Homo sapiens: one gene and its partners. The protein of the gene in region 3 purifies or fractionates together with the protein of the main gene of each other region. This does not show direct contact. Each region holds a gene or a part of one and is shown on either strand. Other genes may lie near its edges.

Region 1 (3,500 bases), on a different chromosome or scaffold from region 3:
AATTATAAGCTTACCTCTTTTGATAATTCACTTCGTTCTTTTGTTTGAATCATGTGAGAGGCTTCAAGTATTTCATGTTTTCTCCTAAGCTCAATTACTTCCTGTTCAAGTGCATCACGTTCACTGTTAAAATAAAATTCAAAGAGACATGTAAATTTTACATCCCCTTGTACAGCGTACACTTTAAAAGGGTTGACTATGTATTAGGACGCTGAATAGAGACACTAGCAATGGGGCTTCAGTGTAATTCCATGAACTATAAAGTACCTACTTTTCAGATTTAGAAGGGACTCTGTTTCAGACCTTGTTCAAATACATACATATCAATTTATTACCTTTAAGGAATATACAAACTACATAAGCCAGTACAGTAAATAATAAAACTTACTAACATACATTTGGTATTTTTTCATTAGTCATCTTCAATCTTATCTTGAGGTTAAAACTTTTAAAGAATGTATACATGGCTCTAGGCTTTCAGTTCAGTTAAGGTAAAAAAAAAAATACAACTTATCATTTAGATTGCATAGTAGATACGTAGGCAGGCATTCTTGTGACTATTTCATTCACAAATTGTTTATGATTACCCAGATTTTAATTTCCATTTTAAGACAAGTTCCCCAAAAAAGTTATACCAAGAATTGGACTAAAACCTACAACACACATTTTTTAAAATGAGCAGAGAAACAGATTTACTAACTCTTAACTACTTCCCTGCAGTCAGAAGCAGTGCCTTTGCACTTTATTTCACTGACCCACCTGGTATTTCCACAGAGAGGGCTGTTAGGAATTGTTTTCCTTTGCATCAGTTTTTCAAAAACGTTTAGAAAGCCTTTTTTCTTCTAGTTAACAAAATATTATGTTTATTGAAGAAAAACTGAGCAAAGCACAAAATAACAATCACCTACAAACCCAATAAGTAAAGATGACTATCAGTATTACTATTCTGATACATATTACTATACGTATTTTGTGCTTTTTTATTTTTAGAATGTTTAGATTATTTTTAATTAAAAAAATTTTTAAATTTTATTTTGTGCTTTCACATGCAATTTTTTAAAAAATCTTTTTTTTAAATTTTTTTTTTTTTTTATGAGATGGGGGTCTTGCTATGTCACCCAGACTGGACTTGAACTACTGCACTCAAGTGATCCTCCAGCCTCAGCCTGCCAGAGAGTTAGGACTACAGGTGCATGCCACCATGTGCCTAATTTAATTTTTTTTTTTTTTTTGTAAAGACGGTCTTGCTATATTGCCCTGGCTAGTCTTAAAGTCCTGGGCTCAAGTGATCCTCCTGCCTGTGCTTCTGAAAGCACTAGGATTACAGACATGACACGCTGTAACCAGCTTGGTTCTTTTTAATGCTTTTACTTACCAATCATTAACACTGTTGTATTTGTTTTGTAATATTAAATAAATATTACTTTGTCATATTTATTCAAACCCTCTCTCTTGTTAATATATGTGAATATATGCAGGTGTCTTAACGGTATATGTGGAGAATGGGTTCCAGACCCACCCCCACAACCTGAATATGCAAATCTGTACATGCTGAAGTCCTGCAGTTGTTGCAGATCCCACCAAACAGTCAGTCCTCTGTATACTCAGGTTTCACATCCCGTGAAAATTGTATTTTCGATTGGTGTTAGGTTGATAAAAACCTGAATATAAGTGGACCCCATGTTGGTCAAGGGTCATGTATCTATATGTGTATACACACCTACACACACATACTCATACATGTGCATTTGTTTCCTCAACTGAGACATTAGGTCCCTTTATCCCTAAATAATTAGTGTGAATTTACTAAGATTAAAGATAGTCTCTTATATAATCACAGTATAATTATCATATTCAGGAGACTTAGCCCTAATATAATATTATCTAACATACAATCCATTTTCAAATTTTGTCAACTGTCTCCCAAAACACCCTTTGTGAATTTTTTTTTCCCTGAGCCAAGGCTCTATTACCATAATGGTAATCCAAGGATCTATTATCATCATATTATAATCTATTACCATGCATCTAGATGTCATGGGGTTTTAGTCTCCTTTAACCTTGAAGATTTCTTAGTTTTCCTTGTGTTTTATGACTTTTTATAGAGCAGAGGCTAGCTGCATCATAGAATGCTCCTCAATTTTCACTTGTCTGAAGTTTCTTCATTATTAGATTCAGGTTAGGCACTTGGGCAGGAATACTACAGAAATGATTCTCAGAAATGATTCTCTGATACAGAAACGCATTCTCAGTATGTTATGTGAAGATGTACTGAGGTATGTGACGTCAGTTTATCCCATTATTGGTGATAGTAACTTTGATCACTAGGTTAAGGTAGCATCTGCCAGAGTTTAACTATAAAGGTATCCTTTTGCCCTTTAAAATTAGTAAGTAATTGTGAAGAGATGCTTTGTGTAAATATCCTATTCCCTAACATACTTATACTTCATGGTTTTATATTCCAATGATGATTCTGAATCAATATTATTATGCGGCTACAAAATGGTCATTCTTACATGCATATACATTTATTGCTTGGATTTCAACCATAAAGATCCTCTTTCCCAAAAAGGATATATTTATTACCACTGAACTGTACACTTAAAAATGGTAAAGATGATGTATTAAAAAAATTTTAAGATCCTCTTTCTGTATTTATTATTAGCCTGCACTTATAAACTCTTATTCTATTCAATGGACTGTAATTCATTATTGCCAATATTTATTGTGATATTCAAGTTTGCTATATTTAGCCAGTTGGCACCTCATCCAAGTGGCTGTTGCAGTGTTGAATTGGAATTAGAAGTATCAACGTGGGCTGGGTGCAGAGGCTCACACCTGTCATCTCAGCACTTTGGGAGGCCAAGGTGGGCAGATCACCTGAGGTCAGGAGTTCAAGGCCAGTCTGGTCAACCATGGAACCATGTCTCTACTTAAAAAAAAAAAAAAAAATTAGCTGGGCATGGTGGCGCACACCTGTAGTCCCAGCTACTTGGGAGGCTGAGGCAGGAGAATTGTTTGAACCTGGGAGGCAGAGGTTGCAGTGAGCCGAGATCGTGCCATTGCACTCCAGCCTGGGTGACAAAGTGAGACTCTGTCTCAAAAAAAAGAAGTATCAGTATGATCTCATCCATAGTGTGTTAAGCCTCCTCCTCATTCTCCCTCTACTTTCTCTGCCTACTCAAAGGGCCTAGAAATAATGACCAATGTAGCCATGACCATAGCACCCAAATCCTAAATTTCTAAATAGCATTCCCCACTAAGAGATCAAGACTTCTTAGACAAAGAGCTGAGGCAATGAAATTACAAAACCAACAAACGAAAACCAAAACTAGGAACATTATGTTATGCCAGAAAATAAGGAACTTTTAGTAAAAAAAAGTGATACATTCAGATCTAATTTAATGATTTTAACTGCTACATAAAATTATATTGCAGAGTAAATCTCAATTTATTTTCCATTCTGCTACTGAAAAGCATTTGAATTTCTTTTAATAATG
Region 2 (3,500 bases), on a different chromosome or scaffold from region 3:
CTGTTATAGGACAGAATCCTATACAGCTATTAAAAGTAATTACACAAATCCATTTGTTAATCTACTCTATCTCAATATGAATGAATTTTTTAAATACTGCTGAGTGAAAAAGCAAAATTGCACACAGTATACGGTACATATTTGTGTACATGTGTGTAAACATACAAAAATGAATAGAGAAATATATATCCAATTCATGATGGTGGATACTTAGGGGAAAAATGGGACTAGTCATAAGGATCAAAGGGCATTATTCATCCTGTAATGTTTTATTTTTTATTTGGAGAAACAGATTTAAAACAAATACCACAAATTTTAAGGAGAATCAATCCTGGTTAAGAAGATTCAATTCTTAGTTGTGGAATCACAGATACCTGTTATAATATTCTCTGAGCTTTTCTGTATATTTTTTAAATTCCTCAATTAAGGGTCTTTTTTTTTTTTTTTTAATGGAGTCTCACTCTGTTGCTCAGGCTGGAGTGCAGTGGCACTATCTCAGCTCACTGCAACCACCGCCTCCCGGGTTCAAGTGATTCTCCTGCCTCAGCCTCCCAAGTAGTGGGGATTACAGGCGCGTGCCACCACCATGCCTGGCTAATTTTTGTATTTTTAGTAGAGACGAGGTTTCACCATGTTGGTCAGGCTGGTCTCGAACTCCTGACCTCGTGATCCGCCTGCCTCAGCCTCCCAAAGTGTTGGGATTACAGGCATGAGCCACCATGCCCGGCCAATTAAGGGTCTTAATTACCAATAAAAAACATTCTATTTGCTATAACTGCAGAATCTGAAAATTGTACCTCAATTCCGAAATCACCAATTTATTTGCCTCACAGCAGCCAATGCAACGGTCTTCCTTGTTTGAGAAGCTACTCATCTGGTATTTAGAAAGATATGATTTAAAGCCAAATAATTCTCTTTTTAACTGCAAGTTTAAAAACAAACATATGTAAACTTATGTAAATGAGATGCATTTGCTTTTTTATTCAGAACTTCAAATTTTAAAAACTGTATGAATTTAATGGAAACAACTTAATGTCCATCAATAGGAGAATATATAAATACATTAAGAAATATTAAGATAATTGGAAAACTACAATAGTTAAAAGAAATAAACCTGAGTCACATAAATCAGTATGGATACATCTCATAACAATATTGAGTGAAAAACAAATTATAGTGGCAAACAGTATTTTCATAAAAACACTAAGCAACATATATATATTTCTAGATGCATCGATATGTGACAATATTTAAAACATGGACGAGAAGGATACACATGAATTTCAGAATAATTGCCATTTCTGAGGAGAGAGGAAGATAATTGGGATCTGACAAGGTACACAAAGAAGATTTACCTGTAAAATTTTATTCTAAAAAAACATAGAGTTGATAAGACAATATGTGTCCCAAATTTTACAAATAAGGTGCTACACTAGCATATGCACCTTTCTGTATGTTTGGATAATACAGAATTTTAAAAGACAGTTATAAAAAGGAGCAAGGTTAGCATTTAATGACTTCTACCTTCAAACTATAACCGAATCACACCTCCTAGAAGTAGAAAAAAATCACATTTTCTAATCGTGTCATTCTTAGCACTACAAGAAACAAACGATCAAGCATACATTACCACATTCGGAATCATATCTCAAATGATTCTTTTTTGAGAGACAGGGTCTCACTCTGTCACCCAGACTGGAGCTTATGATCATAGAGCTCACTGCAGCCTCGAACTCTTGGACTCAAGCAATCCTCCTACCTCAGCTTCTCGAGTAGCTAGGACCACAGGCATGCGCCACCATGCCCAGCTAATTTTTGCATTTTTGTAGAGACAGGGTCTCACTGTATTACCCAAGCTGGTCTTGAACTCTTGCTTCAAGAGTTCCTCTCACCTTGGCCTGCCAAAATGCTGGGATTACAAGCAGGAGCCACTGTGCCTGACCATATATGAAATAATTCTTGATACACAAATGAGAATGCCAAATTAAAATTGTTATCTGTATATGATTACTTTCTAATTTCAAAAGCAAACAGTACATTAAAAATCCAAGCAAATAAACAGCATCCTGGGAAAGCAGATATCAGAGGAGCTAAGATCTTATGTTCTAGTTTAAATTCTACTACTTACCAGTTGGGCAAGTTATTTACTTTCTTGGGTCTAGGTTTCTTCACCAATAAAATAGTATTGAATCAGATGATTTCTGAGATTTTTTTGGTTCATAATTCCACAGTTCATAACAGTTTAACATTGGTAAGTCTACCATCTAGTCTACCATACATTCATATCTGAAACCAACCATAATATATTTACCTATAGTTTCCCCTGATCTTTCCTTCATTTTACACCTATTGATTACAAATTCCTGAATAGGTTTACTTACCTTCTTCTTAATCTCATTTATATATATGGTCACAAATATTACTAAAAGAGAAAAGGTGGTAGACCATTATTATAAAAACATTTTAGGCCAGGCGTGGTGGCTCATGCCTGTAATCCCAGCATTTCGGGAGGCTAAGGCAGGCAGATCACCTGAGGTTGGGAGTTCGAGACCAGCCTGACCAACATGGAGAAACCCTGTCTCTACTAAAAATACAAAATTAGCTGGGCATGGTGGCACATGCCTGTAATCCCAGCTACTCAGGAGGCTGAGGCAGGAGAATCGCTTGAACCCAGGAGGCTGAGGTTGCAGTGCGCCAAGATCTCGCCATTGCACTCCAGCCTGGGCAACAAGAGTGAAACTTCGTTTCAAAAAAATAAAAGGCCGGGCATGGTGGCTCACGCCCATAATCCCAGCAGTTTGGGAGGCCAAGGCAGGGGGATCACGAATTCAAAAGATCAAGACCATCCTGGCCAACATGGTGTAACCCCGTCTCTACTAAAAATACAAAAATTAGATGGGCATGGTGGTGCGTGCTATAGTTTGAGCTGCTTGGGAGGATAAGGCAGGAAAATCGCTTGAATCCGGGAGGCAGAGGTTGCGATGAGCCAAGATGGCACCACTGCACTCCAGCCTGGCGACAAAGCGAGACTCCATCTCAAAAAAAGAAAAAAAATTTTAAGTTCTATGCCATTCTAATAAGTACATGAAAAGTTGCTCATCATGAGCCATTAAAAAAAATGTAAATTAGGGCCAGGCATGGTGGCTCACGCCTGTAATCCCAGCACTTTGGGAGGCCAAGGTGGGTTGATCATGAGGTCAGGAGTTCGAGACCCGTTTGACCAATGTGGTGAAACCCCGTCCCTTGTGCCTGTAGTCCCAGCTACTAGGGAGGCTGAGGCAGGAGAATTGCTTGAACCTGGGAGGTGGAGGTTGCAGTGAGCTGAGATCATGCTGCTGCACTCCAGCCTGGGCAACAGAGTGAGAGACTCCGTCAAAAAAACAAACAAACAAAAAAAAAGAAAAACCACAATGTGATACCACTTCACACCCACTAAGATGGTTATAATAAAAGAGACAGACAAGAACAAGTGTTGGCAAGGAAGTGGAGAAACAGGAACC
Region 3 (3,487 bases):
ATCCTATATGCAGTCCATTGTTGACTGCAGTACTGTTATGTGGCCCATGACTGAGCATTTGTGGGTCTTTGTGTATCATCACAACCTCTTACACTGAATATAAAACTATCTCTTTCTGTTTTCCTCCCTTAATTTTTACTTGCTCTGATTAATGTACTGTATTTCTCTGACATTATTTTATGTGTACACAAGGGCACACACATACACCTTAGCTACCAAAACATAAATGTAACTCTGCCGATCCAAACTCGGGAGAAAATCAAAGCTGAATGAGAACAAGGAAACTTTTCTCCCACTCAGTATTTCAATAAAGGTAGCATCTTATCTATTTAGTATGTGCTTCTTTTTACTTATTTTTTTGCTATCAGATTTATGCTTGTTCATTAAAGTCTGAAGAATGTACTTTATTTGAATTATACATATTATTCCACCGATAGCAAGTTTTTTTTCTTTTTCTTTTAGACAGAGTCTTGCTCTGTTGCCCAGGCTGGAGTGCAATGGTGTGGTCTTGGCTCACTGCAGCCTCTGCCTCCCAGGTTCAAGTGATTCTCCTGCCTCAGCCTCCCAAGTATCTGGGATTATGGCGTGTGCCACCACTCCCAGCTAATTTTTGTATTTTTAGTAGAGATGGGGTTTCACTATGTTGGCCAGGCTGGTCTCAAACTCCTGACCTCAAGTGATCTGCTAGCCTCGGCCTCCCAAAGTTCTGGGATTACAAGTGTGAGCCACCTGGCCTAGGTTTCGTTTTATTTTCTAGGTTTGTCTTCAGACTGCCTTTGGGGTGGGCCTCCTTATGGACTAATTGCAGAGGGTGCTGATATTAGTGCAAGAAGGGCTGGGTGCGGTGACTCGCACCTGTAATTCCAGCACTTTGGGAGGCTGAGGTGGGAGGATCACTTGAAGCCAGGAGTTTGAAACCAGCCTGGGCAACGAAGTGGGACCCTATCACTACCAAAAAAAAAAAAAAAAAAAAAAAGCCCAGCATGTTGGTGCTTGCCTGTAGTCACAGCTACTCAGGAGGCTGAGGTGGAAGCCTTTAGCCTGGGAGGTCGAGGATGCAGTGAGCCGAGATTGCACTCCTGCATTCCAGCCTGGTGACAAAGTGAGATCCTCTATCAAAAAAAAAAAAAAAAAAAATTGTGTAAGGACACAGGAGCTCAGTTTTCACATTGCTTTTTAGCTTAAGGATTCCAAAGTGATTCATTGCTAATCTCGAATGGACAGAGAAACACACAAACAACATAAAACATTCACCGAGTCCAGGTTCCTTTTCCTGGTGAGGTCTGTCTCTTAGAGAAGAAGGGGGATGGATTTTCTTACAGCGTGTCCTTGCCCACAGACAACAACTCTGGAACAAGCTATTAAAAGTGCCCATGAGTGTTATGACGATGAGATTCAGCTTTATAACGAGCAGATTGAGACACTGCGCAAGGAGATTGAGGAGACAGAGCGGGTCCTGGAGAAGTCTTCTTACGACTGCCGGCAGCTGGCGGTCGCCCAGCAAACCCTGAAGAATGAGCTGGACCGGTATCATCGTATCATCGAGATTGAAGGCAACAGGTGAGCGTGTGCCCTCCCCATCCAGGCCACTTATTCCTTCCACAACTCTTTATTGAGTGCCTATTGTGTGCCAGGCACAGTTATAGGCAGTGGGCATGTGTCAGGGAAGGAAACAGAACAATTCCTGACCCCATGGGTGTTGGATAACTAGTAGGGGAGACAGAGGATGAAGGTACGACCAGTGCTGAGGAGGAAGTTCCCGCAGGGAGGAGGGTGGTGGCAATAGGGGTGATGGGGGAATGCTTGCAGTTTTAAGTAGGGTGGTCAGAAAAGGCCTCACTGAGAAGCCTGTGTTTTGCTCATAGGCCTCTGGGGACATAAGTGTCCCAGCAGGTGGGATGCCCAGGAGTATTTAATGAGGTGCTGCAGGTGAGCTACGTGGCACGGAGCCTGGCACTTGAGGGCACTCAGAGGTGTTGGTGATGCTCCTGCTGCCATCCTCACAATTCTTAGCACCTTGCTGAGTCAGTCTGTGGCTGTGACTATGTGGCTGTCTGGTCTTCTCCATAATGGAGCTGTGAGTCGATCCCTACTCACTTTAAGAAAGCTGGGAAATTCTCTCTTTCTCTCCAGCTATGCTGGTATTCATAGCTACGGTGATTTCCAGAGAACGGGTTGGGAATTAATTTGTGATTCTTCACTTCAGTCTTGCTAAATTCCTGGGTTTCGACTGAATGAAAAGAGAAGCCCCCCACAACTGAGGTCCCCACCAGGAGCAGCTCTTCCCTTCGCGCTGGGTGCTCTCTCTTGGCTGTGAGCACTCGAATGCTTGGCAGGAGAAGCAGGATTTTATTTTTCTTTCTCCAGTGCTGGTCGGTGTATCTGGCATGATTCCACATTATATTTATGTCACAGTGAACACTATGCACACATCTGCAAGAATAAGTCTGGAGCTGGCATTTCGGTGACTTTGTAAACATTTTTGTTTTGGGACAGGGCTTCACAGAAAGGTGACTGGATACCTCTTTTATTTATCTATAAGTTCTGATTTTGGTCTAATTTTAAATTGATAGAAATGTTGCAAGAATAGAACAAGGAACTCCTGAATACTCCAGATTCACCAGTTGTTTATATTTTATCTCAATTGCTTTATCATTTTTTCTCTATTTATATATGATGTGTGTGTGTACATGTATATGTATATATGTATATACGTATATATGAGTAGATATATGTATATATGTATATATGTGTGTGTATATGTATATATACGTATATATATACACGTATATATATACGTATATATACATATACACACACATATACATATATACACACATATATACATACGTGTGTGTATATATATACGTATATATACGTGTATATATATATACACACGTATATATACGTGTGTGTGTGTATATATATATACATACACGTATATATACATATATCTTAAGTTGGAGATATCATACTCTGTTTGCCCTAAATACTTCAGCCTGGGTTGACTACTCTAACTAAAAAAATCAAAAAGGCAAAAAAACAAAAGGCAAAAAAATAAAAAAGGCACTGTCTCATGGAGAAGTGGCATTTTTAGGTTATAAGCAATCCCCACTTTACAATTTTTTATAGGTATGTTTCACAGTTTATGACTCTTGAGCTCAAAGAAATGATCACTTCCTTTATGTCCTCATCCAGTATGTAAATGTGTGTATGGCTGTCTGTTTAAAATGATATCTAATTCGTGAGCAATTTGGTCTAGAGAAAGCTTTTTTTTCATTTTTGCTCAACATTAACGAGAGTCGCTCTTGCCCCTGACCTCTGTTTGGCTTGTTCTTTCTGGTTCTTTCTGCCAGGCTGACCTCTGCCTTCATTGAAACTCCCATTCCCCTGTTCACCCAGAGCCATGGAGTCTCTCTCAGCACTGGATCCGGTGGGAAAGGTAACGCTCCCCAACACTGGACTTCTGTTTTTTTCTGTCTTGAAA
Region 4 (3,500 bases), on a different chromosome or scaffold from region 3:
TTGAGACAGAGTCTTGCTCTGTCGCCCAGGCTGGAGTACAGTGGCTTGATCTTGACTCACTGCAACCTCCGCCTCCTGGGTTCAAGCAATTCTTCTGCCTCAGCCTCCTGAGTAGCTGGGACTACAGGCACACGCCACCATGCCCGGCTAATTTTTGTATTTTTAGTAGAGACGGGGTTTCACCACATTGGCCAGGCTGGTCTCGAACTCCTGACCTCGTGATCCACCCACTTCGGCCTACCAAAATGCTGGGATTACAGGTGTGAGCCACCGAACCTGGCTAAAAATTTTAAGACCCTAAAAACTGTCTTACTGTCAGTTATAATTATACTGCTTGTTATAACTACATTTTTTTATTAAATGAATTTTTTTTATTATACTTTAAGTTTTAGGGTACATGTGCACAATGTGCAGGTTAGTTACATATGTATACCTGTGCCATGCTGGTGTGCTGCACCCATTAACTTGTCATTTAGCATTAGGTATATCTCCTAATGCTATCCCTCCCCCCTCCCCCCACCCCACAACAGTCCCCAGAGTGTGATGTTCCCCTTCCTGTGTCCATGTGTTCTCATTGTTCAGTTCCCATCTGTGAGTGAGAATATGCGGTGTTTGGTTTTTTGTCCTTGCGATAGTTTACTGAGAGTGATGATTTCCAATTTCATCCATGTCCCTACAAAGGACATGAACTCATCATTTTTTATGGCTGCATAGTATTCCATGGTGTATATGTGCCACATTTTCTTAATCCAGTCTATCATTGTTGGACATTTGGGTTGGTTCCAAGTCTTTGCTATTGTGAATAATGCCGCAATAAACATACGTGTGCATGTGTCTTTATAGCAGCATGATTTATAGTCCTTTGGGTATATACCCAGTAATGCAATGGCTGGGTCAAATGGTATTTCTAGTTCTAGATCCCTGAGGAATTGCCACACTGACTTCCACAATAGTTGAACTAGTTTACAGTCCCACCAACAGTGTAAAGGTGTTCCTATTTCTCCACATCCTCTCCAGCACCTGTTGTTTCCTGGCTTTTTAATGATTGCCATTCTAACTGGTGTGAGATGATATCTCATTGTGGTTTTGATTTGCATTTCTCTGATGGCCAGTGATGATGAGCATTTTTTCATGTGTCTTTTGGCTGCGTAACAAAGAAATAAGACACTTTAATTCTCAGTGTTTCTGATATTTTAAAGTACAGTGTACTAAATATTAATTTTACTATTTTTTCATTTCATTTTACAATCAATTTAAAGGATTAGGATAATTGATAAGTTATGATGCAGATAACCATATGATGAAAATGATGGAATATTATGTCATCTTTAAAATATTTGCAGAAAACTTTTTAGAATGTGAGAGAATGCATATGTCTGAATACTACGGTTAAAAAGACAGATTATAGTATTAGCAATACAGTATGTCATTGGTCTATTTTTAATGGAAAGTAAAAATTCTGCTAGAAAATATATTACAGAATTAATAATGGTTTTTTTCATAGGACTTGGGGTATCTTTTCTAAAACTTGTTATATTTCTATACTGATCATTTTCTCTATTAGGTAAACATTTCATATAGGAAAAATAAAAGTTTTTAAAAACACTGTTAGATATTTAAAAATAAAAACTGTCTTAACCAATACTTGTAAGTTTTTTAATTAGAGAATAATTTTCAAGCTCTGTCCTTTCTTCAGAGTAATTAATTTTTTTGTTTCTAAAGTGTTTACCTTCTCAGTTTTATTGTATTTGATGAATTTTGTTTTCAATAAATATGTTTTGACATCAAGATTTAAGTTTTCTTGTTTCAAAGGAGATTTGTAATATTAGTAAATCATTCACCTCTAAATGTTTTAGGTAGATGGATGTAGTTTATTTTGTTATTTTCACTTTGTAATGTATTTACTATAAATATTTTCTGCTTATGATTATATGAAATAAGAGTGTTTTCTGAAAATGTACTTTTTTTCTCTTAAGTATGTATTATTTTAAATTAAAACAATCATTCTTTTAAGTTGTACCTTCCTTGCTTTTTTTTGTAGTTAAGGCATGAAATATCTGTAATTTACCTTAATGTTAAGATTAAAGTCAATTTTAAGCCTTTCAGTATTATTGTTGATCTTATATAAGGATGTGCTGAAAAATAAAGCTTCTGATGTCTTGGTTTTATAGCCAGCGACCATTTTCTTCTCTTTGCTTGTTAACTGGAATTAGTAAGAAGTCCAGTGAGTTTGGTGAAACACGCTGAAGAAAATAGCAAATAATTCTACAGGATTTAATATATAATTTTCATTTAATTGACTAGATATACATAGATATTTTAGAATTTTTCTGAATGGCTTATTTTATCATTTAATAAGAGATAATATCTGAATTTTACTCTTTTGAAAATTTTTGAAAAATTGAAACCTCTCTAGGACAAACTGAATCATGCTTCAGTTAATTGTGATCGATTTAATGCATTGAAATTGTTATATAATCTTTTGATTCTTATAGCACAGTATTTAATGGTAATTAAACACTTCTAATTTTTTATTTGAAGTCTACTTAAAAATGATTTTGTTTAAAGAGTTATTGTTGACCCAAATGTTTAATTGACCTCGAAACAGTAATTACTGTTACGAAAATGACTTGAGGCTATCATGTTAACTATTTGTTTCAAAGGTTGCACAGTGAATTAAAAGATGCTGTTGAAAAAAAATTGGAGGCCTTTCCCCTGGGCACAGAGGTAGGAACTGACATATATGCAGATGATGAAACAGTCAGAAACCTTCAAGAACAATTGCAGCTAGCCAATCAAGTGAGTGACATGTATTTTTAAAAATTATATTCTGAATTAACATACCTTTTTAAAAATTCATGTTAATCATTATTTATGGATAACAAAATAATAAAATTGTAACATTATGATTTTTTACAGTTTATAAGAATCGTTACAGGTAGCAACACTTGTAATAAATACCCTCACTGTTAGAAACGTACTTGCCAAATACCCTCACTGGTTGTTACAAATGTGTTTAATTAAAATCATAAAGATTTTGACGTGAGTTTTTTTCTTATGAGAATATTTTTTCTTTCTTTTTTTTCTTTTTCTTTTTTTTTTTTTTAATTATACTTTAAGTTCTAGGATACATGTGCAGAACGTGCAGGTTTGTTATATAGGTATCACATGCCATGGTGGTTTGCTGCACCCATCAACCCATCATCTATGTTAGGTATTTCTCCTAATGCTATCCCTCCCCTAGCCCTCAACCCCACAACAGGCCCTGGTGTGTGATGTTCCCCTCCCTGTGTCCATGTGTTCTCATTGTTTAACTCCCACTTATGAGTGAGAACATGCAGTGTTTGGTTTTCTGTTCCTGTGTTAGTTTGCTGAGAATGATAGTTTCCAGCTTCATCCATGTCCCTGAAAAGGACATGATCTCATCCTTTTTTATGGCTGCATAGTATTCCATGGTGTATATGTGCCACATTTTCTTTATCCAGTTTATCATTGATGGA

What was found. The genes of interacting proteins can lie anywhere in the genome.
Region 1: the proteins of BFSP1 (region 3) and PIBF1 purify together in Homo sapiens (affinity purification with mass spectrometry; one large-scale study listed by BioGRID and IntAct). This does not show direct contact.
Region 2: the proteins of BFSP1 (region 3) and CCDC18 purify together in Homo sapiens (affinity purification with mass spectrometry; one large-scale study listed by BioGRID and IntAct). This does not show direct contact.
Region 4: the proteins of BFSP1 (region 3) and SCLT1 purify together in Homo sapiens (affinity purification with mass spectrometry; one large-scale study listed by BioGRID and IntAct). This does not show direct contact.

What each region holds. Positions count from the first base shown.
Region 1 is NC_000013.11:72,823,633-72,827,132, reverse strand, and holds part of PIBF1 (progesterone-induced-blocking factor 1), read right to left. Parts: intron 124-3,500; coding exon 15-123; intron 1-14.
Region 2 is NC_000001.11:93,208,224-93,211,723, reverse strand, and holds part of CCDC18 (coiled-coil domain-containing protein 18), read right to left. Parts: intron 923-3,500; coding exon 798-922; intron 1-797.
Region 3 is NC_000020.11:17,496,893-17,500,379, reverse strand, and holds part of BFSP1 (filensin), read left to right. Parts: intron 1-1,339; coding exon 1,340-1,560; intron 1,561-3,356; coding exon 3,357-3,442; intron 3,443-3,487. UniProt on the Homo sapiens protein: Required for the correct formation of lens intermediate filaments as part of a complex composed of BFSP1, BFSP2 and CRYAA. Involved in altering the calcium regulation of MIP water permeability.
Region 4 is NC_000004.12:129,003,040-129,006,539, reverse strand, and holds part of SCLT1 (sodium channel and clathrin linker 1), read left to right. Parts: intron 1-2,663; coding exon 2,664-2,799; intron 2,800-3,500. UniProt on the Homo sapiens protein: Adapter protein that links SCN10A to clathrin. Regulates SCN10A channel activity, possibly by promoting channel internalization.